Regions from separate parts of the Homo sapiens genome. Here all the other regions are linked to region 3. The links come from fine-mapping of genetic effects on gene expression. A gene starts in region 3. Each other region holds a variant in brackets. All regions are shown on one strand. Distances are from middle to middle. Region 1 has its middle 22 kb from the start of TUT4. Region 2 overlaps TUT4 (terminal uridylyl transferase 4). Region 3 holds the start of PRPF38A (pre-mRNA processing factor 38A). Region 4 has its middle 9.9 kb from the start of GPX7.

What was found. PIP is the estimated chance that this variant, and not a neighbour inherited with it, causes the effect.
Region 1: its variant is the best candidate, but not a certain one, in a credible set for the expression of PRPF38A in atrial appendage (GTEx, PIP 0.90).
Region 2: its variant is the best candidate, but not a certain one, in a credible set for the expression of PRPF38A in whole blood (INTERVAL, PIP 0.55).
Region 4: its variant is the best candidate, but not a certain one, in a credible set for the expression of PRPF38A in monocytes (Fairfax 2014, PIP 0.70).

Annotation. Positions count from the first base shown.
Region 1 is chr1:52,572,030-52,577,864 of GRCh38, reverse strand. It overlaps the pseudogene EEF1GP7. Among named protein-coding and RNA genes, the nearest start is that of TUT4, 22 kb to the right of the region's middle. The variant T/C (reference allele first, on the strand shown) is at 2,569.
Region 2 is chr1:52,460,702-52,466,536 of GRCh38, reverse strand. TUT4 (terminal uridylyl transferase 4) reads left to right here. Exons shown (of 30, transcript NM_001009881.3): 16 at 1,364-1,467; 17 at 4,768-4,825; 18 at 4,921-5,024; 19 at 5,314-5,403. Among named protein-coding and RNA genes, the nearest start is that of PRPF38A, 59 kb to the right of the region's middle. The variant C/T (reference allele first, on the strand shown) is at 2,870.
Region 3 is chr1:52,402,606-52,408,440 of GRCh38, reverse strand. It overlaps PRPF38A (pre-mRNA processing factor 38A), which reads right to left and starts at 3,839. Exons shown (of 10, transcript NM_032864.4): 1 at 3,562-3,839; 2 at 2,602-2,761. The coding sequence starts at 3,691. ORC1 (origin recognition complex subunit 1) reads left to right here and starts at 4,018. Exons shown (of 17, transcript NM_004153.4): 1 at 4,018-4,195. RefSeq lists an enhancer at 3,320-4,519.
Region 4 is chr1:52,609,381-52,615,215 of GRCh38, reverse strand. No RefSeq gene overlaps it. Among named protein-coding and RNA genes, the nearest start is that of GPX7, 9.9 kb to the right of the region's middle. The variant G/C (reference allele first, on the strand shown) is at 3,072.

The DNA of each region.
Region 1 (5,835 bases), 170 kb before region 3:
ATACTTAAAAACACATAGTAGCACTTTATTCATTTTTTCAGTAACTTATTCAAAATAATTTTTATTGAGCATCTGTCTTATATGCTCTAGTCCAAGTGCTGAATTATGAAACTTACTATCTAAAGGACAGAGAATGAGTAAGTATTTACAAGTATGATAAATGACACCAAAGAAAAATATAAGGCATTAAAGGCCATATAATAGGAAGGTCTAATTGTGTCTTCAGGTCAAAGAAAGCTTCCTTCAGAAGTAATGTTTAAGCTGAAAGCTGAGTAGAAGTTAGTTAGATAAGCGCTGGGAAATGGGTGGGAAGACAATGGAAGTCGGCATGTGTGAAGGCCTAGAGGCTTTAAGCAGCCAAATTTTGTCCAGGGAACTGAAGGGTGTTTAATATTGACTGAAGCACAGAGTATGGGACGCAAGAAGAAACAGAGCTTGTTGGAGGTCAGTTCATTTAGGACTTTGTGGTCATGCTGGAGTATTCACAGATCCTCTGGGCCTGGCTTTGTTCTCAGTATGAGGAATACATAGAATCGAATCAGATCTTAATGCTCTTTAATCCAAGGCCTTAAATAGCTCACAATCAGGTAGGATAGACACATTTTGACAATGGTAGTGCAGCATGATAAATATGATAATAAAGAACTGATTTTCATGGGAATTTATAGGAGTGATAATTAAGAAATAACATTATTCCATCAATTGCCTTTTAAGTTATTTCACATTGCTTCCAAATTCTTACTAAACAAGCCAATTGTAAGACTAAGTTTAGATTAATGTTACTTTTAGACACACAGAAAAATGATTTAGCCATTTAGGCTAAAAAGCAATTTCTATTACAGTTCTTGCTCTTGCTTTTTGCCTCTATACTACATCTTTCTTTTTCTTTTTTTTTTTTTTTTTGAGATGGAGTCTCACTCTGTGGTCCAGGTTGGAGTGTAGTGGTGTGATCTCGGCTCACTACAACCTCTGCCTCCCAGCTTCAAGCAATTCTCGTGCCTCAGCCTCCTGAGTAGCTGGGACTACAGGCATGTGCCACCACGCCCGGCTAATTTTTGTATTTTTCATAGAGATGGGATTTTACCACGTTGGCCAGGCTGGTCTCGAACTCCTGACTTCAGTGATCCGTCCACCTCGGCCTCCCAAAGTGTTGGGATTATAGGCATAAGCCACTGCGCCTGGCTAATACTACTTCTTTCTTTTCAACTCTCACTTATCCTTTAAGACTCTGGTGAGCTTTCCCCCTTCCACTTTACCTCAAGTAGAGTTAGAAATCTTTCCCTCTATGTCCCTGAAGGACCCTGGGATCTCTATTATAGCACTTATCACAATATACTACAAGTGTTTATTTTCCTGTATCCCCTCTAGGCTTTTATTTCCCCCAATAGAGTTCTGTATTTTTTTATTTTTTAAGAAAAAGGGTCTTGCTCTATTGCCCAGACTGGGGTGCAGGGGCACAATCATAGCTTACTGTAATTACTCATGGGCTCAAGAGATCCTCCCACCTCAGCCCCCTGAATAGCTAAGACTACAACCACACACCACCATGCCAGCTAATTTATTTATTTTTGTAGAGATGGGGTCTTGCTATGTTGCCCAGGCTGGTCTTGAACCTTTGGCCTCAAGTGATCCTCTTGCCTGGGCCTCCCAAAGCACTGGGATTATAGGAATGAATAGTGCCTGGCCTCCCACTAGACTTAAGCATAGAGATTTTGTCTTGCTCATGCTTCAATCTGTCATTCGATAAATATGTGTCAGGTACCTACTATATGCCAGACATCAGGCTAGGTGCTGCAGATTCAGTGACGACCTGGATAGACTCAGTTCTTGCTCTTGTAGAGCTTATAGTCTAGTGCAGAAGGTTGACAAGCAAATGGGCAAGAAGAGTATGTATGAAAAATGTTATGATGAGGAAAGTGTCAAGTGCCATGGGAAGCCCAGAGCAGGTGTACCTAACTTTCTTTAGGGGGCAAATGGAAGTCTTTCAGAAGGAAGCAATTTAAGCTGAGAATTGAAGAAAAAGTACAAGTTAGTTAGTCAATGTGGCAGTCATGGGTCAGAGGTGGGAGAGAGCACAACACATTCCAGAAACTGAAAGAGGACTGGGCACGGTGGCTCATGCCTATAATCCCAACACTTTGGGAGGCTGAAGTGGGAGGATTGCTTGAGTCCAGGAGTTTGAGACCAGCCTGGGCAACATAGCTAGATTTTATCTCTCCAAAAACATATTAAAAATTAGCCAGGTGTGATGATGGGCACCTGAAGTCCTACGTACTCAGGCTGGAGGCTGGAGGCTGAGGCAGGAGGCTCATTTGAGCCCAGGAGTTCCAGGCTACAGTGAACTATGATCATGCCACTACTCTCCAACCTGAGTGACAGGGTGAGACCCTGTCTCCAGCAAAACAAAACAAAGAAATTCACAGAGCAGTCGAGGTTAGGGGCAAGCAGTGAAGATTGTGTGAAGTGGGGTGTGGCCGGGGTGAGGAAAACAGAGATTGGTGTTTAGTGTGATAATTATACACATAGAAAACTCTATGTAAAGTGTTTGTTAAATGAATGGATGAGCCA[T/C]TCCAAAACCTGAGAAAGAAAGACATTTGGGAAAAGCAAATTTGTTTGTGATTGTTCATTCCTTTGTTCACTGGGAGGCATTGTAGTGTGTTGGCTAAAAGTCTGGACTCACACCAACTGCTTGGGTTTGAATCCTGGCTTTGACAGTTAATAGCTGAGTGACCTTAGACAAATTACATAACTTTTCTATGTGCCATTTTCCTCATCTGTAAGAGAGAAATGATAATAATTCATAGAATTGTCATGAAGATTAAACAAGTTAATAATATTTGTAAAGCACTTGGAATAATGCCTAGAATTAAGCACTGACTGTTTGCTATTATTATTCCTCCATTCATTGAAACATTTATTGAGGGCCAAGTACCATGCTAGGTGCTGTGAAAATATGTGGCTTCAGCCATGGAGGAGGACCATAAAATCTGGTGAGGGAGAAGATTCATAAATAAGCAATTACAACACAATGTGATCAAGTGAGGCGATAGTGGTAAATCCTGCAGAACTGAACAAGACAGAGTGACTCATTCTCTCCAAAGAAGCCAAGGGAAGCTTCAGAGAGAAGAATGTATTTAAGTTGGGTGACGCAGAATGAACAGAGTTTGGCAGCAGACAAAAGCAGTATGGTTTATCAGGCCAAGGAAGCACCATGTTGCAAAGGTTTAGTAGGATGCAAGTCTAAGGCATGTTTAGGAAATGGCAAGGGGGTCTTGAGCACCTGTTATGTGCCAGGGTCTGTGCTAGGCACTTTTTATATGTTCTTTCACTTTCCATAAGAACTTAAGAGGTGAGAATTATGGTCTACATTTTTTATGAGAAGGTGATCTGAAAGATTGAGAGACTTGCTCAAGATCGTGGAAAGCAGTGGGTCTAAATTTGAATCCAAATCTATGTGACTCTAAGGTCTGTGTTCTTTGAGGAAAGGATGGGGCCTGACAATGACCTTGTGAAGTTTTTAGTGTAGCTAAAAGTACAATACTTTTATTTATTCCTTTATTTTTTAGAGTGAGGGTCTTACGCTATTTCCCAGGCTGGAGTGCAGTGGCGCAGTCATAGCTCACTGCAGCCTCAAACTCCTGGGCTCAAGCGAGCCTCCTATCTCATCCTCCCGAGTAGCTACGACTATAGGCATGCATCACCATGCCCAGCTAATTTTTAATATTTTTTTGTAGAGACAGAATCTTGTTTTGCTGCCTAGGCTTGTGTTGAACTCCTGGCCTCAAGCAATCCTTCCTCCTTGGCCTTCCAAAGTGCTGGGATTACAGGTGTGAGCCACCACTCCCGGCCCAATATTTTTATTTTAAATTTTAATAATGTTGGATGGCAATCTTGTTAAGTAGGCACTTGGTATTTCTCAGTCGTCATAAATGGAAAAAACTGACCTTAAATTAAACTTTTTTTTTTTCAATATTCAGTTTCTTTTAATGATCCCCATCTCCTTAAAGAACAGGTACAGGAAGCAAGGCAATGGCAAGAGCTGTTTACTTGAAGATCTTGCCCTGACTGAAGTTAGCCCACATGCTGGAAGGCCCTTTTCCAGGAACAGTACTCACAAACCAGTGTCTGGGTCTCCTTGCTGCCAGGATCCAGTTTCTGCCACGTGTATGACTCGAAGACCACCTGCCAATCTGGACTCAGTGTCAAGGCCTGTGAAGACCCAGGCTCCAGAAATGGAGCTGATATTGTTGCTTCCAAAGAGGATGGCACTGGCAAAGGCATTCTTTCTCAGTTTGTTCAACTGCTGGAACATTCCAGCGATGAGATTGCAACTCCAGAAGGTCTGGGTGAGCTTCTCAGGAAAGCAATACTCAGACCAACCATCCTTATCAGAGTGCTCCCGAAAATACGGCAGCACCACATTGTGTCCTTATAGGAGTACTTGTGCTTAAATTCATCCATCACAAAGGTACTCGGGCAAGTGAGCAAAGGGGTCTTGGCTATCCGATGCTCAGCAGCCAGTGCCTGCTCACATTCATCCATCTCCTCAGGAGCAGGGTCAGCCGCCTTTTTCTCCTTTCTGTTCAGCCTAGGGCTTCTGCTTTTCTTCCCGTGAACTTTTCTCCTGTGGGGTGTCCTTTTTAGGCCTGCTCTCTGCAAATATTTTAGCATCAAATAGGGCCATTTTCTCCTATCATTTTACTTCCCCCAAGACAGCCTGGAACTGGGGCTGGTTAATGCAGGTGAGAAAGTTAGTATCATGACCACTATTTGTGATTCTGTGATGTTCTGTGTTAATATCCTGAGGGTTTGTTAGGGGATTTCCCTTTTATACGTGTGTTTCCCAAATTGTCTTTTGAGGAGCCCTGGGGTGCCCTAGCTAACTGAGGGCTCTAGAGGATATTTTGACATTTTAGGAGAAATACAAGCTGGGCGCAGTGCCTCATGCCTGTAATCCCAGCACTTTGGGAGACCCAGGAGGGTGCATCACTTGAGGCTAGGAGTTCCAGACCAGCCTAGACAACAAGGCAAAATCCCGTCTCTACAAAAATCAGTTGGGCATGTTGGCGCACACCTGTAACTCCAGCTACTTGGGAGGCCAAGGCATGAGAATGGTTTGAACCTAGAAGGTAGAGGTTGTAGTGAGCTGTAATCGCGCCACTGCACTCCAGCCTGGGTGAGACAGCGAGACTCCATGTTAAAGAGAGAGGGAGAAGGGAGAGGGGAGAAGGGAGAGGGGAGAGGGGAGAGGGAGATTCAATATATGTCTGATACCACACAAGCTTGAGTTCAAGGTTTAAACATGTCTCTGGATGATGTCATGTCTTTTTGAAGCTGAGTTTTCAGAGGTTGCTGTAATAAAAAGCAAGTACCAAGTGAAAATCACTGTGGAACAATAAATGACTGTAGCAGCATACGATGAGATCCCAAAGTTTGAGAAGGGAATTGCTAAACAGGCACATACATCCCTTAGCACATAATTATGAATATTTAAGAATAAAAACTGGCTGGGCACAGTGGCTCATGCCTGTAATCCCAGCAATTCTGTTACCAGTGGAAGGTGCCCAGATTCTTGGCTTCTTGAAAAAATTGGACAAAACACACAAATAAAGCAAGGAAAGAATGAAGCAAGAAAAGCAGAGATTTACTGAAAACGAAAGTACACTCCATAGTGTGGGAGCAGGCCAAGCATATGGGTTCAGGAAACTGGTTACCCAATTTTCTGGGATTTAAATACCCTCTAGAGGCTTCCCATTGGTTACTTGAGGTACACCCTATGTAAATGAAGAAGTGGCCTGTGATTAATCTGATTGGTTGCAGAAGGCAACCAATCAG
Region 2 (5,835 bases), 58 kb before region 3:
TCTCCTGAGTAGCTGGGACCACAGGTGCGCGCCACCACACCCAGCACATTATTTTTTGTAGAGATGGAGTCTCACCATGTTTTCCAAGCAGGTCTCAAACTCCTGAACTCAAGTGATCCACCCACCTCAGCTTCCCAGAATTCTAGGATTACAGGCATGAGCCACCGCACCTCGCCTTCTTTTTTATCTTAAAAAATTTTTGTAAAGACAAAGTCTCACCATGTTGCCCAGCCTGGTCTCAAACGATCCTCCCACATTGGTTGGCTTCCTGAAGCGCTGGGATTATAGGAGTATATAAAGTATTGACCAAATCTAAGTCTCTATTATATAAAATCATGCTCAGTTTTATTTGCTGATGAGTATAGCTTCTTTTTTGCCTCTCAGCTATCATTGAAATTTCAAGTAGAGCATCAGAACTGGATGGGGGTATGAAGTTTTGAAAGTATAAAGTGTCCTATAAATGTGTAGTCTACTTTAGAATTAATAGGAAGAGCCAGGCCCAGTGGCACACACCTGTTATCTCAGCCACTTGGGAGGTTGAGGTGGGAGTATTGCTTGAGGCAAGGAGTTCAAGACTGTAGTGTATAATGATTGTGCCTGTGAATAGCCAGTGCACTCTAGCCTGGGCAATATAGCAAGACCCTGTCTCTAAAAAAAAAAAAGTAATAGGAAGAAAAATCCAATTCTGTTAAACCACAGCTTATTTGAAATGGTAGCTGTTATTGGATGACACTGAGTCTGAAGGGTTAACCCTATCATAATTTATATCAAGTGGACTATAATCACTCATTTTTGGAAGAGCATCGTATACTAAGGTGATATTTGTAAACCTACATGAATTGTGCTTTGAAAGAACTAATTTATTTTTAAGAGGGCAGTCCTCAAATATTGATCTTAACTATTGGTAGTGATGTTGAGAATGTATAAAAGCAGATGGATTTATTATGTAAGTCGGAAAAAGCTAAAAGTCTCAATGATTGTTTGGATGTGGACATTGAGAGACAGATATTAAGGATTGCACCTGTATTTCTGATGTGGGCATCTGTGTACATGATGGTACTATTTGCTAAGAACAGGGATAATAGAAATAGTAATAGATTTGGGGCAAAGTTGATAGTTCAGACGTGTTGAATGTATGATGTCTGTGGAAAATTGGAAAAAGCAGTTGGGTACATGGGTATGGGAACTTGGGCAAAAGCTTGGGCTCAAGATGTTTTGGAATTTCTCAGTATTTCTTCCAGTGGTAGGTAATTTAAATCATAGAAATGGACAAGAGCATGTTGTATTAGGTCATCAGCAGATAGCAGAAGACTCCTCCTCTCTGCTTATAATAAGGCCTTGGACTTTGTTTTCCTTTGCTTAGAAAAGGCAAGGTTGTGCTTATTTGGCTCTTCTAAGAATGGATTTGGATTTCGTGATAGTGATCTGGATATTTGTATGACCCTGGAAGGCCATGAAAATGCAGAGGTAAGAGTGTTTGGAAAGCGTTATGTAAGTTTATTTTCTCCCAATGACGATTCTATGTTTATTTTTGTATGTGATATTGATAAAAATGTGGTATCACTCTTTGTATAAATATATTAGCAAAATAAGTGTTTGAAATATGAAAACAGTAGCATTTTCAGTTTAGAAGACATTGAACTCTTAAGTAAAAGTGTTTCAGTAATTTTATGATACAAAAACCATGTCACTGAGAGTTACAGTGATTTGTAATGAATTTTGGGAAAAAATATATCACGAAGTTGGAATTTTTTCACTAGAACCAATGGGAAGCTGATGCATCAGTTTTGTAGTGAACATTGATCTTTCATACTTTGTCTTCTCATATCTCTTTCATTAGATGATGTCTTTGTGTTACTATAGGTAGTAAATATAGGTGGTCATCTAATTTATAATTGGTTTTGTTCTAAAAGTTAGTTATAATTTTTGACCACTCACATAAAATTTTTTCCATAGAAGCAATGTTACAGATGATATGCTAAGGGCTGGGCGTGGTAGCTCATGCCTGTAATCCCAGCACTTTGGGAGGCCAAGGTGGGCGGATCATGAGGTCAAGAGATCAAGACACTCCTGGCCAACATGGTGAAACCCCGTCTCTACGAAAAATAAAAAAAATTAGCTGGGCATGGTGGCACGCGCCTGTAGTCCCAGCTACTCAGGAGGCTGAGGCAGGAGAATCGCTTGAACCCAGGAGGCGGAGGTTGCAGTGAGCCGAGGTCACGCCACTGCACTCCAGCCTGGTGACAGAGTGAGACTCCGTCTCAGAAAATTAAAAAAAAAATAAATAAATAAAATGCTAAGATAGCTTTTAGAAACTCATTTTGGGCGGGGAGGAGAACTAACATTTATTGAGTTCCCAGTATACACTTTTACATACATTATCTCATTTCATTCTTACAACCACCTTCGAGGTAGGTATTATTTCCCCCATTTTACAGATGAGGAAACTGAGGCTTTGAAAGATAAACTGACTTGTCCAAGTTCACACAGCTAGTAATTGTTGGAGCCGGGATTCGTAACCCAGGTCTGTCTGACTCCAGAGTTCATGCTCTTTCCATTGTATCTCACTGCCTCTCTGTAATTTTTTTAACCCATAATGTAGCTGAAATATAGTACTAATAGTACTGTAGAACCTAACCACTGCTTTCTGAAACTGATAGCTTTCTGAGTTCCACCGTGAGATGCCAGGAGCAGACCTTCCCCAAGTGCAATTTCAGCAGTAAGAGTGGGTACTTACGCTTTCCTTTTTTGTATACCAGGCCTTAATAGTGGGAAGGAGATTGTCCAAGCTCCAGGGAAGAAAAAGACTGATTGGACAGGGAAGAAGTGTCCCAGGCCTTCTCAACAGCAACTAGCAAAGGAGGGTATC[C/T]TTGTAGATGTTCAGTCCTTTACCAGCCTAGCTATTGTTATTTATGTTTCAAAATGCGGGACTGTTTGCAAGATTGGGGTGAGGCCCAGCTTCTGGCATCTGTAGTGGTGTCAGTATCGCCTCTGTTACATTATAAAAGAATTCAGCAGAATAGTGTGCTTTTCTAAAATCATTCTTTTGAACGGTGGTTTTGAAATTGTTAGACCCGGAGTAAAGATGGCAGTGATGACTTAACTTCTGGCCATAAGAAGTTGCTTCTGGTGTCTTAACATCTTGTTTTATAAAGAAACTGAAAAGTTGCAAGTATTTTATTTGTTCTCCTTTACTTAAATTCTGCTTAGAGCCACCTACTTGGAAAGTGGCTGCCCTTCTCCATTCTGAAGAGTAAGAATTGAGGGAATAGGAAATGATTTTTATACCCAGGAAAGAGGTTAGAGTTTTAGATATCTTCTATGTAAAATTTATTAAACTTCTAATCACTAAGGGTTTGTATATTATATATAATCTGTGCCATTCCTACTGGGAAGTTGAAACAATGAAAATAATAAATCATTTTCTTTCAGATGAGCCATAATTGAAACTTTTAAGATTAGCATAATTGTATCGTTGAATAATAAAGAGAAAAATTACCTCCTTTGTTAATTTTATCATATGTGAATTAGTAACTAATGGTTTCTTTGAAATCCTTTGGTTTAGCTGCAATGGCTCCTGCTCTCATGTAGCTAAAAAGAACATGTTGGAAAAATGCAAATGACTTTATAACTCTTGGGATTGATGTTTATACCCTTCAGCTATTTCCAGTTAATTTTTAATGCCATAATCATTATGTATTATGATTATCATTACCATACCAACTCTGCTGTCTCTGGTTTTTACAAGAGTAACACATTTAAATTTACAGAGGTAAGAATTTCCTTGGAGAAATAGGTGCTGGTGATAATAGGAGTATCTTTCTTTTCCATATCAACATAATTATAATAAATAACTCACAGATTTAAAGGCTTATTTTGTGCCAGGCATTCTGCTGAGTGCTTTACATACATGTCTCATGTAATCCTCCCAACAGCTCTGCAGGACAGGAGTTTATGATTATCTTGATTTTATAGAATAGTAATGTAATGCTCAGAGAGGTTAAACATCTGGTTAGTCACACAGCTAATCAATACTTAGTTTAAGATTTGAGACTGGGTGCAGTGGCTCACGCCTGTAATCCCAGCACTTTGGGAGGCTGAGGCGGGCGGATCACGAGGTCAGGAGATCGAGACCATCCTGGTGAACACGGTGAAACCTGGTCTCTACTAAAAATACAAAAAAATTAGCCGGGCACGGTGGCGGGTGCCTGTAGTCCCAGCAACTCGGGAGGCTGAGACAGGAGAATGGCATGAACCCGGGAGGCAGAGCTTGCAGTGAGCCGAGATAGCACCACTGCACTCCGGCCTGGGCGAAAGAGCAAGACTCCGTCTCAAAAAAAGAAAAAAAAAAAAAAAAAAAAGATTTGAATCCAGGTTTGTCTCAATTTGGAGCCTATGTACTTAATCAGTATATTGTTTTGCCCTCACCAAACTCACCTCTAGTTGTTTATTCACTTATTGAAAACCATATTCTTCTCCTGTCTTTGTGCTTCTCAAACTTTAATCTGCATGTGAATTACCTTGGGATCCTGTTAAAATGCAGATTATGATTTAGTAGACTGGGGAGGGTCCTCAGATTCTGCATTTCTATCAAGTTTCCAGATTATGCTGATACTGTAGGTCTATGAATCACTTACTTGGAGTAGCAAGGTTATTATAGAGCTTTATGGCTGGAAATTGTAAATGCTACTATTAAATGCTTAGATTAAAGTAGAATTTGCACAAGGTGAAATTGAGTCAAACTTATTTATTTGATTTGTTTTTTAGAAATTAAATTGTAAGGAAATAATTGAAAATTTGGCAAAAATTCTTAAGAGACATCCAGGTATGAATTTTGAATCTTATCTGTAAAACAAAATAAATTTTTTTAGCATATATGAAAATTATTTAACCTACTGAAGTCTTTTTTTTTTAAATTAGGTTTAAGAAACATTTTGCCTATAACTACTGCCAAAGTGCCTATAGTAAAATTTGAACACAGGCGAAGTGGGTTAGAAGGCGATATCAGTTTATATAATACGTTGGTAAGTTTATCTTTATAGGCCATGTATATACTTTTCATTTTAAAAGTTTACAGATTACTGACTCTATGTTTAAAACTTTCAAATGTGAACAGTATAAGGAAAAAGTATTTTACTAGTTATCTTGATAGTTCCTTCAGATTGAAGGTCAGTTTTTGTTTGACTCATTAATAGGTGTTTTACATTTTACATTTATATATTTTGTATTTGGAGTGTATTTTACTTTTAAATCTGATTTGTAGTTTAATTTTACGAAATTTGAAATCCTTTCAAATATGTAATTATTTTTCAGGCTCAACATAACACAAGAATGCTAGCTACTTATGCAGCTATTGATCCTAGAGTGCAGTATTTGGGATATACTATGAAAGTGTTTGCTAAGGTATTTATGAAAAAATTAATGATCTGCTTTGTTCATGATAATTAAAATGAAACATAACTAATGTCAGATTTGTGAAAAATTTTGTCTCAGTTTTGTTTATCTGAGCTTTTAAAAAAGAAACTTTCAGTATTATATAGCTTGAATAGATACCTATCAGAGTAGGGTGGCTCTGTCTTTTTTTCCTGTATGTATTCTATTCCCATGTGCAACTGACTAGTCAGTTTCTCAGCAGTAACATTTCTCAATGCAGTGATTTTAGCCCCAGGCATGGGAGTTGGCATATCATCCTAGTTAAGAATTTCTGAGTTAAGAAATCTTATATTTGAGTTTAGTGATAAGTTTTTCTGACCCAGAAAACAAAACAATACCAATAATACCTTACGCTTCTCCTATTATAACACTTGTTATGACATTGAATTTAGTTTTCTCATT
Region 3 (5,835 bases):
GAGGTAGAATGCAGCAGAAGAAAGACAGCTAAAATATGGAGACCTGAGTTCAAGTTCCCATGCTACCATTTATGGCTGTGGGAACATCATACATATTGATCAACTTTCAAATATATCATCAGTAAAACTAGAATAAAACCTATTTACCTCACAGGATTACTCTAAGAATCAAAAGAAATACTGAATTTTATTTTATTTTTTAAGGCAGAGTCTTGCTCTGTTGCCCAGGCTGCAGTGCAGTGGCACGATCTTGGCTCACTGCAACCTCCGCCTCCTGGGATCAAGCAATTCTCATGCCTCAGCCTCCATGTAGCGAGGATTACAGGCGCCCGCCACCATGCCCAGCTAATTTTTGTATTTTTATTTATGTATTTATTTATTTCTTGAGACAGAATCTTGCTCTGTTGCCCAGGCTGGAGTGCAGTGGCACGATCTCAATTCACTGCAGCCTCCACCTCCTGGGTTCAAGCGATTCTCCTGCCTCAGCCTCCCAAGTAGCTGGGATTATAGGCATGTGCCAACACACCCAGCCTAATTTTTGTATTTTTAGTAGGGACCGGTTTTGCCATGTTGGCCAGGCTAGTCTCAAACTCCTGACCTCAGGTGATCTGCCTGCCTTGGCCTCCCAAAGTGCTGGGATTACAGGTGTTAGCAACCATGCCTGGCATATTTTTGTATTTTTAGTAGAGACGGGGTTTCCCCATGTTGGCCAGGCTGGTCTTGAACTCCTGACCTCAAGCAATCCACCTGCCTTGGCCTCCCAAAGTGCTGGGATTACAGGTGTGAGCCACCACACCTGGCCATATATTGAATTTTAAAACAGAAAGAAGATATATTTAATAACAATACAAGAACAAGTACACATAAACATGACTGCTGGTTTTGGAAAAAAGTAAGTCATCTGGGTTCAAATTCTGACTCCGTAATTTACTAAGTCTGTGACACTACTGGTCAAATCATGTGTTTTCTCAATCCTTGTAAAACGGAGATAATGCTACCTAATTTATGGCTTGGTATATAAACAAGAAATGCATTGAAAGTGCTAAGTATAGCACAGAGCACACAGTAAGTGCCTAACAAAAGTTAGGTATTTTCTAGCTGTTAATGCTTTATTAGAGTCGTTCCAGCCAGGGGCGGTGGCTCACGCCTCTAATCCCAGCACTTTGGGAGGCGAGGCAGGTGGGTCACCGGGTCAGGAGATCGGGACCATCCTGGCTAACGCGGTGAAATGCCGTCTCTAGTAAAAATACAAAAAATTAGCCGGGTGTAGTGGTGGGCGCCTGTAGTCCCAGCTACTTGGGAGGCTGAGGCAGGAGAATGGCATGAACCCAGGAGGCCGAGCTTGCAGTGAGCCGAGACTGCGCCACTGCACTCCAGCCTGGGCAACAGAGCGAGACTCTGTCTCAAACAAAAAAAAGAGTTGTTCCTCTTCCCTTTTTCCTATATCTAACTACTTAAATTTCCTCTTGGGTAACTAGGAGGCTTTTGAAAGTCATAGTTTCTTTGTACGAGAAGCAGAATACTGTAGCAAAGAATATGAACTCTGAAGCCAGATTTGCCACTTACTAGCTGTTTGAACTTGGGCAAAATTAATTAATCTCTGTGCCTCAGTTTCCTCTCCTGTAGAATAGGGATTAAAAGTTTAGAAGGTTGTTGTGAAAGTGAAATGAATTATTATATGCAAAGCCCTTACAGCATGGCACATAAGAAGCTATTATGTCTGTCTCCTATACTTGTTTGTGATTTCCTCGAGAATCGGTAATACGGTAATAAGCTGACATTTTCTAGGTGTTTACCATGCAGCAAGTGCTGTGTTCAGAGATCTGCATGCATTACGTTCTTTCACTCTTATATTATAGTCACCATTTTACAGATAAGCAAAGTTTAGAAAATTAAGTAACCTCTCCAATGTCATAGTTAATGGGCAACAGAATCTGGATGTGAACCCAGATCTTACACCTCTTAACCACCACCTTTTGTTGTTTGATTTTCACCCCTGAGCGTCCAGTGCCTACCAACATATCAGGCACTCACTTTTGCTTAATATGTATTTAGTGAATCTGTGAAATCCTTTTTCAGGGAAAAATTACCAAAACTGAGAAAGTAAAGTAGAAGATTAATACAATCAGAACAGATAAAATACAAACTTGGCAGGGTGTGGTGGCTCATGCCTGTAATCCCAGCACTCTGGGAGGCCCGGGGGGGGAGGGGATTACCTGAAGTCTGGAGTTCGAGACCAGCCTGGCCAACATGGTGAAACCCCATCTCTACTAAAAATACAAAAATTAGCCAGGCGTGATGGCACATGCCTGTAATCCCAGCTACTCGGGAGGCTGAGACAGGAGAATCACTTGAACCCAGGAAATGGGGGTTGCAGTGGGCCGAGATCGCACCACTGCACTCCAGCCTGGGCAACACAGAGAGACTCTGTTTCCAAAACAAAAAACAAACAAAAAATACAAACTCAAGGGCTCAAAAGCAAAAATCTGGAGTGGAACTCTCTAGAAATGAGATACATTGTGTACACCCCTCTTAACCAAAGCCCAATTCTAAACCGCCAAAATTAAACCTCTTATATTAGCTAGTGAACATTGCACTCACTTGAAATCTTCATTTTTGATAAACTCTACAATGATATCCTTCTCGGGTTGAATTTGAAGCATCTTCAAGGTTAAACACAGAAAGGGTGTTGGTTTTATGTTGCCACCATAGACGCCACCCACAAACCTTAACTCCATGGCTTTATCGACTACAAGTTCAGCTAAAAAACAAAAACAATACAGTAACATATTAGGGCTAAGCTCTTCCTAGTTGGAGTGGAGTTAGTTCAAGCTTTGGTTCTCCTAAATATACATCAACAGTGTAATATTAGGAGAACGAATGTGTATTAATAACAGTAACGACAACAGCTAATATACATTGAGAATGGATAATAAAATAGGTACCCTGCTAAGCTTTTCATATTATCTCACTTAACCTTTTTTAACAAGTCATGAAGAAAGTTCTAGCAATGTTCTTATTTCCAGGTAAGGAAAATGAGGGCTAAGAAAGGTAAAGTGACTTGCTCAAGGTCCACAGATTGTCACAGGACATGGATTTAAAGCCACAATTCAAATCGGAAGATTACCTGGAAGACTTCTCTGAAGCACTGATATTTATAAATACTGGAACCGGCCCAGATCTAAGAATAGTAAGATCATGAATTTGGTTTCAGGCATATTAACGTTAGGTCCTTAAAGACCTTCAACAGATTGTGTCAAAGTGTTATATCCGGATCCCTGAGCTTAACACTGTTGCAACCCAGCCTGCTATCATTAAATACGGAATAACTCACAACACCCAACTGAGACAGCCTTCAGAATATGACCTTACCAGATTCATCTGTGCCTCTAATACTCAACACAAGACGAGGCACTTAGCAGGCACTCAAAATTTTTCTGAATGATCGACATACTCCGTTCCAGTACCACCCCCAGAGGCCAGTCGCTAGTCCTACCCGCGCTCGGTCAGGAGAAATGGGCCACAAGGGGGCTGAGAGGCGCTCCGCGCGCTTCCACTTACCTGTAAGTCCAAAGCACTCCTCTTTCCAGTACTTGGACTCATAGATTCGCGTTCGAATGATCTTCTCCACCAGATATTGAGGGTTGGTGCCATGGATGCTGTGCGCATCCTTCACTGTACGGTTAGCCATTTTAGAATGCCTTCAATTCTATTTCCGTCGGATCCTTTAATGCCTCACATCCAGGTTCAGAAAAAGCACCTAGAGGAATGGAGAAAGGTGGAAGAAGTTTCACTAAACAGCTTAGGCGACCATCTTGAAGCCGGAAACACCGTAGTGTAAAGGGCTTCCGCTCCCCGCGTCGCCTATCGAATCAATGATGGCGGCTGCATGTTAGCGGATGTACGTCATGCGCCCCTCTTAGGTGTACGGAGTGGGCGGGGCGAGCTAGTTGGTGTCGCAACGAAGGGACGGTCTGGGGGCGGGGCCACGCCGATTGGCGCGAAGTTTTCTTTTCTCCTTCCACCTTCTTTTCATTTCTAGTGAGACACACGCTTTGGTCCTGGCTTTCGGCCCGTAGTTGTAGAAGGAGCCCTGCTGGTGCAGGTTAGAGGTGCCGCATCCCCCGGAGCTCTCGAAGTGGAGGCGGTAGGAAACGGAGGGCTTGCGGCTAGCCGGAGGAAGCTTTGGAGCCGGGTGAGTGTGGCGTCCAGCGGGCTGCGAGGGACTCGGGGGAGGGCGCATCGGAACCTCTGAAACTGAGGACGTTCTCTGTAGACTCAGTCATTGATTCTTTTAGCTGACATGTACCAAGCGCCTGTTCAGTGCCAGGCACTGTTCTGAACTGTTAAGAGCGTTCCTCTGTTCCACACTCCGATTCCTAAAAGGCTTCCCGCGCTGCAGGGAACTGAGTTTGCAGGGGGGAAGGCGGAAGCCAACAGCCTAGAAGCAGGAGCATTCCTGCCCTCCGCACCCTGATGCTCAGTGATGACTTTCCCTCCATCTGCATTTGTAAAGCACTCTACTTGTTTCGTTCTTTGAGCTATAGTGTAGGAACCACTACAGGGAAGGCGGAGCAGAGGTTATTACCCCATTTTACGGACGTAAATTGCGCCCAGGGAGGGACGTGTCTTAGGTCGCTTTTCGTGACTAAGCAGTCTGGGCTCCTACCCAGATCTTTTTTTCAGATGAGCTCCTAACTGCTGGGCTGTCTGTCATTCACCTTCTTTTCAGAAGAGAAGTCTGGTGGCCCCCTTCCTACTTCTCTTTTCTAACCCCGGAATTGAAGAGTCTTCTGCTGTGACAGTTGGAAAAGGCATTCTTATCCTGATCTATTTGTGAAACTGCAATGATTATATACGATTCTAGTTGTCTGTAACACATGAATAATAGTACCCTCGTCTCTGCTGTGTTAGGTGGGCTGGAAATGCCAAAGGAGTTTCCAATATGACAGAATGGTTTAAGTCCCTTTGCAACAGTTTTTAACTTTAATGGAGGGCAATATGTGGACTTTAGGAGGTTTGTGAATCTGCCGAAATTGAATGCAAAATTTTGCTTGAATTATGTTAGTTCCATAGTATTCATCAAATGATACTTAATAAATAAAACCACTGTACCTTACAAATAAATGCAAGGGATTAAGGTAGTGGGAAAGTGGATTTACCATTTTGCATTTTTTCACTTAATCTTCCATTATCCTAAAATAGTGCCTGGCACACGATGGGTACTTAATAAATATTGGTTGAATAAACGGAAGATTCTATTTTCTCCATTTTGTGGGTAAGCAAATTGAGGCCCAATCCACAATGTTCAGTCAGTGGCTGGGAAGCCTGATTTATTGTAATAAGTACACCAAAAGCAAGCTCTCAGTTACATATTAACATTATCCAGTTTCACACAGTGTGTTGTAAGGTGAAGTAGTTAAGAGCACAGTAATTGCAGTCTGGCTTTTCCGGGTTTGAGTTAAGGCTGTGCCATCCTGTATAAGATAGGATAAGTTATCACCTTGAAGTGATAATAACATCTACTTTTCTTTTTTTTATTTTGAGACAGAGTTCTGCTCTGTCACCCAGACTAGAGTGCAGTGTTGCGATCTCGGCTCACTGCAGCCTCCACCTCCCGGGTTCAAGTGATTTGCCTGCCACCATGCCCACCTGATTTTTGTATTTTTAGTAGAGACGGGGTTTCACCATGTTGGCCAGGCTGGTCCCGAACTCCTGACCTCAGGTGATCCACCCACCTCAGCCTCTCAAAATGCTGGGATTACAGGCGTGAGCCACTGCGCCCAGCCTTTGTATTTCTGTTTTATCCTTGTGTGCATTTTATAAGCGTCATGA
Region 4 (5,835 bases), 210 kb before region 3:
CCAAGATAGCGCCATTGCACTCCAGCCTGGGCAACAAGACTAAAACTACGTCTCAAACAAAAACAAAAACAAGGTAGCTGGGCGTGGTGGCATGTGCTTGTGGTCCCAGCTACTTGGGAGGCTGAGGCATGAGAATCACTTGAACTGGGGAGGCAGAGGTTGCAATGAGCCAAGACTGCACCACTGCACTCTAGCCTGGGCGACAGATCGAGACTCTGTCTCAAAAAAAAAAAAAAAAAAAAATGGACTATCTGCAATGTAATCACTCCAGGGGTGTCCAGGAATCCGTGAAAGCAGGTGGTTAGTAGGGACTCCAGTCTTGGCAATCTTCTCAGCTACCCCTTGGCTGGCTCAGCTAGAGAGCTGGGGAATTTCAGGGCTGCTTGCTTTTCACAGGTGTCTCCGTGGTGACCTGTCCTCCAGGCAGCCCCCAAAGCAGAACAGCCTACTCCTTTTTTTTTTTTTTTTTGAGATGGAGCCTCACTCTTGCCCAGGCTGGAGTGCAGTGGTGAAATCTGGGCTCACTGCAACCTCCGCCTCCCAGGTTAAAGCGATTTTCCTGCCTCAGCCTCCCCAGTAGCTGGGACTACAGGCACAAGCCACTGCCCCCGGTTAATATTTGTATTTTTAGTAGAGACAGGGTTTTGCCATGTTGGTCAGGCTGGTCTCGAACTCCTGAACTCAGGTAATCCACCCTCCTCAGCCTTCCAAAGTGTTGGAATTACAGGCGTGAGCCACTGCATTCAGCTGCAGCCTTCTTCTACCAGTGGTTCAATGACTGCCTCTGCCCCAGGGTTTATTTCTGGCCGTCAGATTTGGGACTCTAAGGAAGATCTTCTTATACCAATAGAAGACAGACGCTTCATGCTAGGCCAGGTCACATCATTTCTCACTTAGATTCCACAAGGCCCTGCATGATCTGGCATCTGCCTACTTCTCTGGTCCTTCTCCTTATCATGTGGCTCCAGGCAGCACTAGCTCTATCATATCAGCCTTTTCCTTCCTTTAGGCTTTTGCCCAAGCCACTCTATCTGCTTAGGACTTCCTTACCATTTTTTCCCTAACTCTTATTAAAATTTCAGCTTTCAGCTTTAATGTCATTCCTCAAGGAAGTCTCTGAATCCCACAATAGGTCAAGTGCCACTTTTATACACACTCACAGCTCCCTGTACTTATCATAATCCCTGTGCTTATCATAATTGTAATCACATAATAATCAGAATAACTATTTGTTTAATGTTTATCTTTTCCACTGTTCTCTAAGAGCCATAGCAGCTGGGAACATGCCCATTTTGTTTGCTGATGTACAGTTAGAACTTAGGGAGAACTTGACAGATATGCAGTGCTCAAGAAACATTTGTTGATGAATGAAAGTCCCTGCCAATCACAACATTCCAGGAAGTCCCCTACAGCCTGGCTCAGAGAAACAAATAAGCAATTAGGATGGGACCTCCTTTTCTCTCAGGACCTGGGGCCAGTTGATGTTGAAAGAGAATCGTTTGGGGGTAAGAGGAGAGCTCAGTAAAAGACAAAGGCCTGTATTTTTCCATATTCAGAAATGACCTCTTCCCCAAACTCCTAACTGATGGTTTCTGACTTGCTAATCTACTCTAAACTCAGCAGAGAGCTAAGGGATCAGGTAACTAAAATATTGATTAAGGCTGGGCGTGGTGGCTCACACCTGTAATCCTAGCACTTTAGGAGGCCAAGGAGAGCAGATCACTTGAGCCCAGGAGTTCAAGACCAGCTTAGGCAACATGGCAAAAACCCATCTCTACAAAAAATACAAAAATTAGCCAGACATGGTGGTGAGCATCTGTGGTCCCAGCTACTCAGGAGGCTGAGGTGGGAGGATTGCCTGAGCCTAGGAGGTTGAGGCTGCAGTGAACTGTGATTGCACCACTGCACTCCAGCCTGGGTGAGAGAGTAAGACCTTGTTAAAAAAAAAAAAAAAAAAAAAGAAAATTTGATTAATAACTAAGACATAGCAAATACTTTTAAACTACTAAATCCTAAGATATAACTGAATAAATAAAGTATTTGGCTTGTAAATAAGGTGTTAGAAGATAACTAAGGTGGTGTTAGTAGATAATCAAATATTAACTACTCAAGTGTTATTTGATAACCAAGGGATTAATTTAAAACCAAGATCTTAGCAGATACTGGTTAACCAATGACTAAGGTGACTGTTGATAAGGATTTAAAGTAACTTTTTCCTAGGGGACTCTTGCATGTATTAGAGGGGGGTTGGGAACAGCAGAAGCTGATAAAGTCCACAGAAACACAGGGCTAATTGGGAGCGTAAGGTCCTCAGACGGACTCTAAATTTCTGAGGAAATGGGCTTGCTCATCTTTGGTTTCCAGATAGGGCTTAGGCAGGAGCAGGCATGGAGTTGGTACTCCAAAGGCTTATGACATAATTTAATTTCATCTATTAAGGGCCTAGCACTGTGCTCAGGAGAGGGAAGGGAGGGCAGTTTCTTAAGTGATGGGAATAGAGTGTGATAAGTAAGTGGTGTGTGAAAGAGAAAGCTCCAGGGGCTGCCAAGGCAGAATGGAAGGGAGAGCAGATGTGTTGGGGAAAGATGAGGGTGAATTTAGTTCTGGCCATGTTGAATTGAGGTATCTGTAGAGATGCCCAGGAGGCAGGTGGATGGGAGTCCTGCATGGATATAGAGATTTGGGTGTCAGCAGGGTGTAGATGGTGGTCAAAACCATGGGAAAAAATGAGCTGGCTACAGAACGGTATATGGGGTGAGAAACTAGATCAGACTAGAACCCCATGGAAGACCAACAGGGAAGGGGTGGATAGAGAAGGGAGAGACATTGACACTGAGAACGAAGGAACACTTAGAGAGATGGGGGAAACTAAGAGAAGACAGAGGAACGCCAAGGACCGAGCAAGTGCCAGGGAGAAGAGCAGAGTCTGCAGTGTCACATGCAGCTGAGAGGTCAAGGAAGACAAGGTGAGAGATATTCATTGGCTTTAACGATAAGGCACTAAGTGATGGCCTTGGTGGGCACAGTGAGGGGAGGCATACATACGGGTGGTGGAGACAGTGGGTATGGAG[G/C]GAGGAAGGTAGCTGCAGGAGACTGTGGTTCCCAGATGTCCAGTGTGAACATGTGTGCAAGCTGGGCTTCACTGTGTGTGTGTGCATGCACACAAGTACATGCAGAGCTGCAGCTAAGAGGAGGGTGTGTAAGGGCAGCTGAGAGGCCACCATAGGAGGGGCTGTGGTCACCCCATGGACAGCCTTCACTTTACTTTTGTTAGCTTTTGAGAAGCACCATGAAGGGAGACTGTGAAAATCCTAAGCACGGTTTAACCCTTTCATTGTCCAGTGAGAAAACGGAGGACAGGAGAGAGGGAAGAATTTGCTGTGAGTCAGGGGCACAACAGGAACTTGAATCTGAGTCTCCAGACTTCTAGAAGAGTGACCTTAGATAAAGTACACCTGAAATTCTTATTGGCCAATGAATTATCTACCAGTGACTCTGCCCATCACCCCATTTTTTTTATAGTATTTTGGTCTGTTGCTCAGGTTGGAGTGCAGTGGCGTGATCATAGCTCACTGCAGCCTCAAACTCCCAGGCTCCAGTGACTCTCCTCACTCAGCCTCCTGAGTAGCTGGGACTATAGGTGTGCACCATCACACCTGGCTAATTTTTTGATTTTTTGTAGAGATGAAGTCTCACTGTGTTTCCCAGGCTGCACCCCAATTTTTAGCCACCTTTCCACATTTATATAAAGGTGAAATATGGATTTGACATACAAAATTCAAACATTACAGAAACTTAATGAAAATGACTCCTGTTATCCTACCTCAGCCCCTCGCAGACAACCACCATTAAGAGTTTGGTCTATATTTTTCCCTCTCTCTTTCCCTCCCACTTAACATTGTAAATTTTTTAAAAATTTGGGACAGGGTCCACTCCCATTGCCCAGGCTGGAGTACAGTGGCGCAAACACGGCTCACTGCAGCCTCAACCTCCTGGGCTCAAACAATCCTCCTGCCTCAGCCTCCTGAGTAGCTGGGACTACAGGTGTGAGTGACCACGCCTGGCTAATTTTTAAATTTTTTTGCAGAGACACGGTCTTGCCATGTTGCCCAGACTGGTCTTGAACTCCTGGGCTCAAGCAATCCTCCCACCTCTGCCTCCCAAAGTGCTGGGATTACAGGCGTGAGCCACCTAATGCACCCAGCAACATTGTACATTTTTAATAAAAACATTACACTTGTTCATACTGGTTTTTCTGGGTATGTGAATGTGTTCATTCTGTTTTACAACTTATCATTTTTTCACTTTTGGACAACTTTCTATGGTAGCATATGGAGACTTCATTCATTCATTTTAATAACCATATTAGTTTATAATTTGAGGCAAGGTCTCCTCTGTCACCCAGGCTGAGTGCAGTGGCATGGTTACGGTTCGCTGCAGCCTTGACCTCCCAGGCTCTAGCAATTCTCTCACCTCAGCCTCCTGATAGCTGGGACTACAGGCATGCACTGCCATGGCCAGCTAATATTTTTTTGTAGAGGTGGGGTCCCACTATGTTGCATGGTGGCGTGTGCCTGCAGTCCTAGTTACTCAGGAGGCTAAGGATGCAGTAAGCTACGATCGAGCCACTCTTCTTCAGCCTGGGCAACAGAGTGTGACCCTGTCTCAAAACAAAAAGCAAAAACAAAAGGTATGAGCATTTTGTTTTAAAAGATATTGCCAAATCACCCTCCAAACACTTGTGCCAGTTTATCGTACCACAGTTTATGTGAATGCCCATTTCCTCACATCCCTGCCAACCAGGGGTATTATCATTAAAAAAATATCTTTCGGCCGGGAATAGTGGCTCACGCCTGTAATCCCAGCACTTTGGGAGGCCGAGGCGGGCGGATCACTGGGTCAGGAGATTGAGACCATCCTGGCTAACATGATGAAACCCCGCCTCTACTAAAAATACAAAAAAAAAAAAATTAGCTGAGCGTGGTGGTGGGCGCCTGTAGTCCCAGCTACTCGGGAGGCTGAGGCAGAATGGCGTGAACTTGGGAGGCAGAGCTTGCAGTGAGCCGAGACTGTGCCACTGCACTCCAGCCTGGGTGACAGAGCTAGACTCCATCACAAAAACAAAACAAACAAACAAAAAACTTTCCAACTTCAATGAGGCTGGACATCTTTTTGTATCCTTATTACGCATCTATAGTCTTCCGTGAACTATCTATTCATCTCCTTTGCCTATTTGTTATTGAGGTGTACTTTTGGCTAGTGGATTACTCAGTGAATTTTTTTTTTTTTTGAGACAGAGTCTCTCTCTGCTGCCCAGGCTAGAATGCAGTGGCGTTATCTCCGCTCACAGCAACCTCTGCCTCCCGGATTCAAGCGATTCTCCTGCCTCAGCCTCCAGAGTAGCTGGGATTACAGGCACCTGCCATCATGCCCGACTAATTTTTATATTTTTGTAGAGACGGGGTTTCACCATGTTGGCCAGGCTGGTCTCAAACTCCTGACCTCAGGTGATCCACCCGCCTCAGCCTCCCAAAGTGCTGGGATTACAGGCATGAGCCACTGTGCCCGGTCATGCCAGGCTAATTTTTGTATTTTTATTTTTTTATTTTTATTATTATTATTATTATTGAGACGGAGTCTTGCTCTGTCGCCCAGGCTAGAGTGCACAGGCTGGAGTGCAGTGGCACGATCTCTGCTCACTGCAAGCTCCGCCTCCCGGGTTCACACCATTCTCCTGCCTCAGCCTCCAGAGTAGCTGGGACTACAAGCGCCCGCCACCACGCCCGGCTAATTTTTTGTATTTTTAGTAGAGACGGGGTTTCACCGTATTAGCGA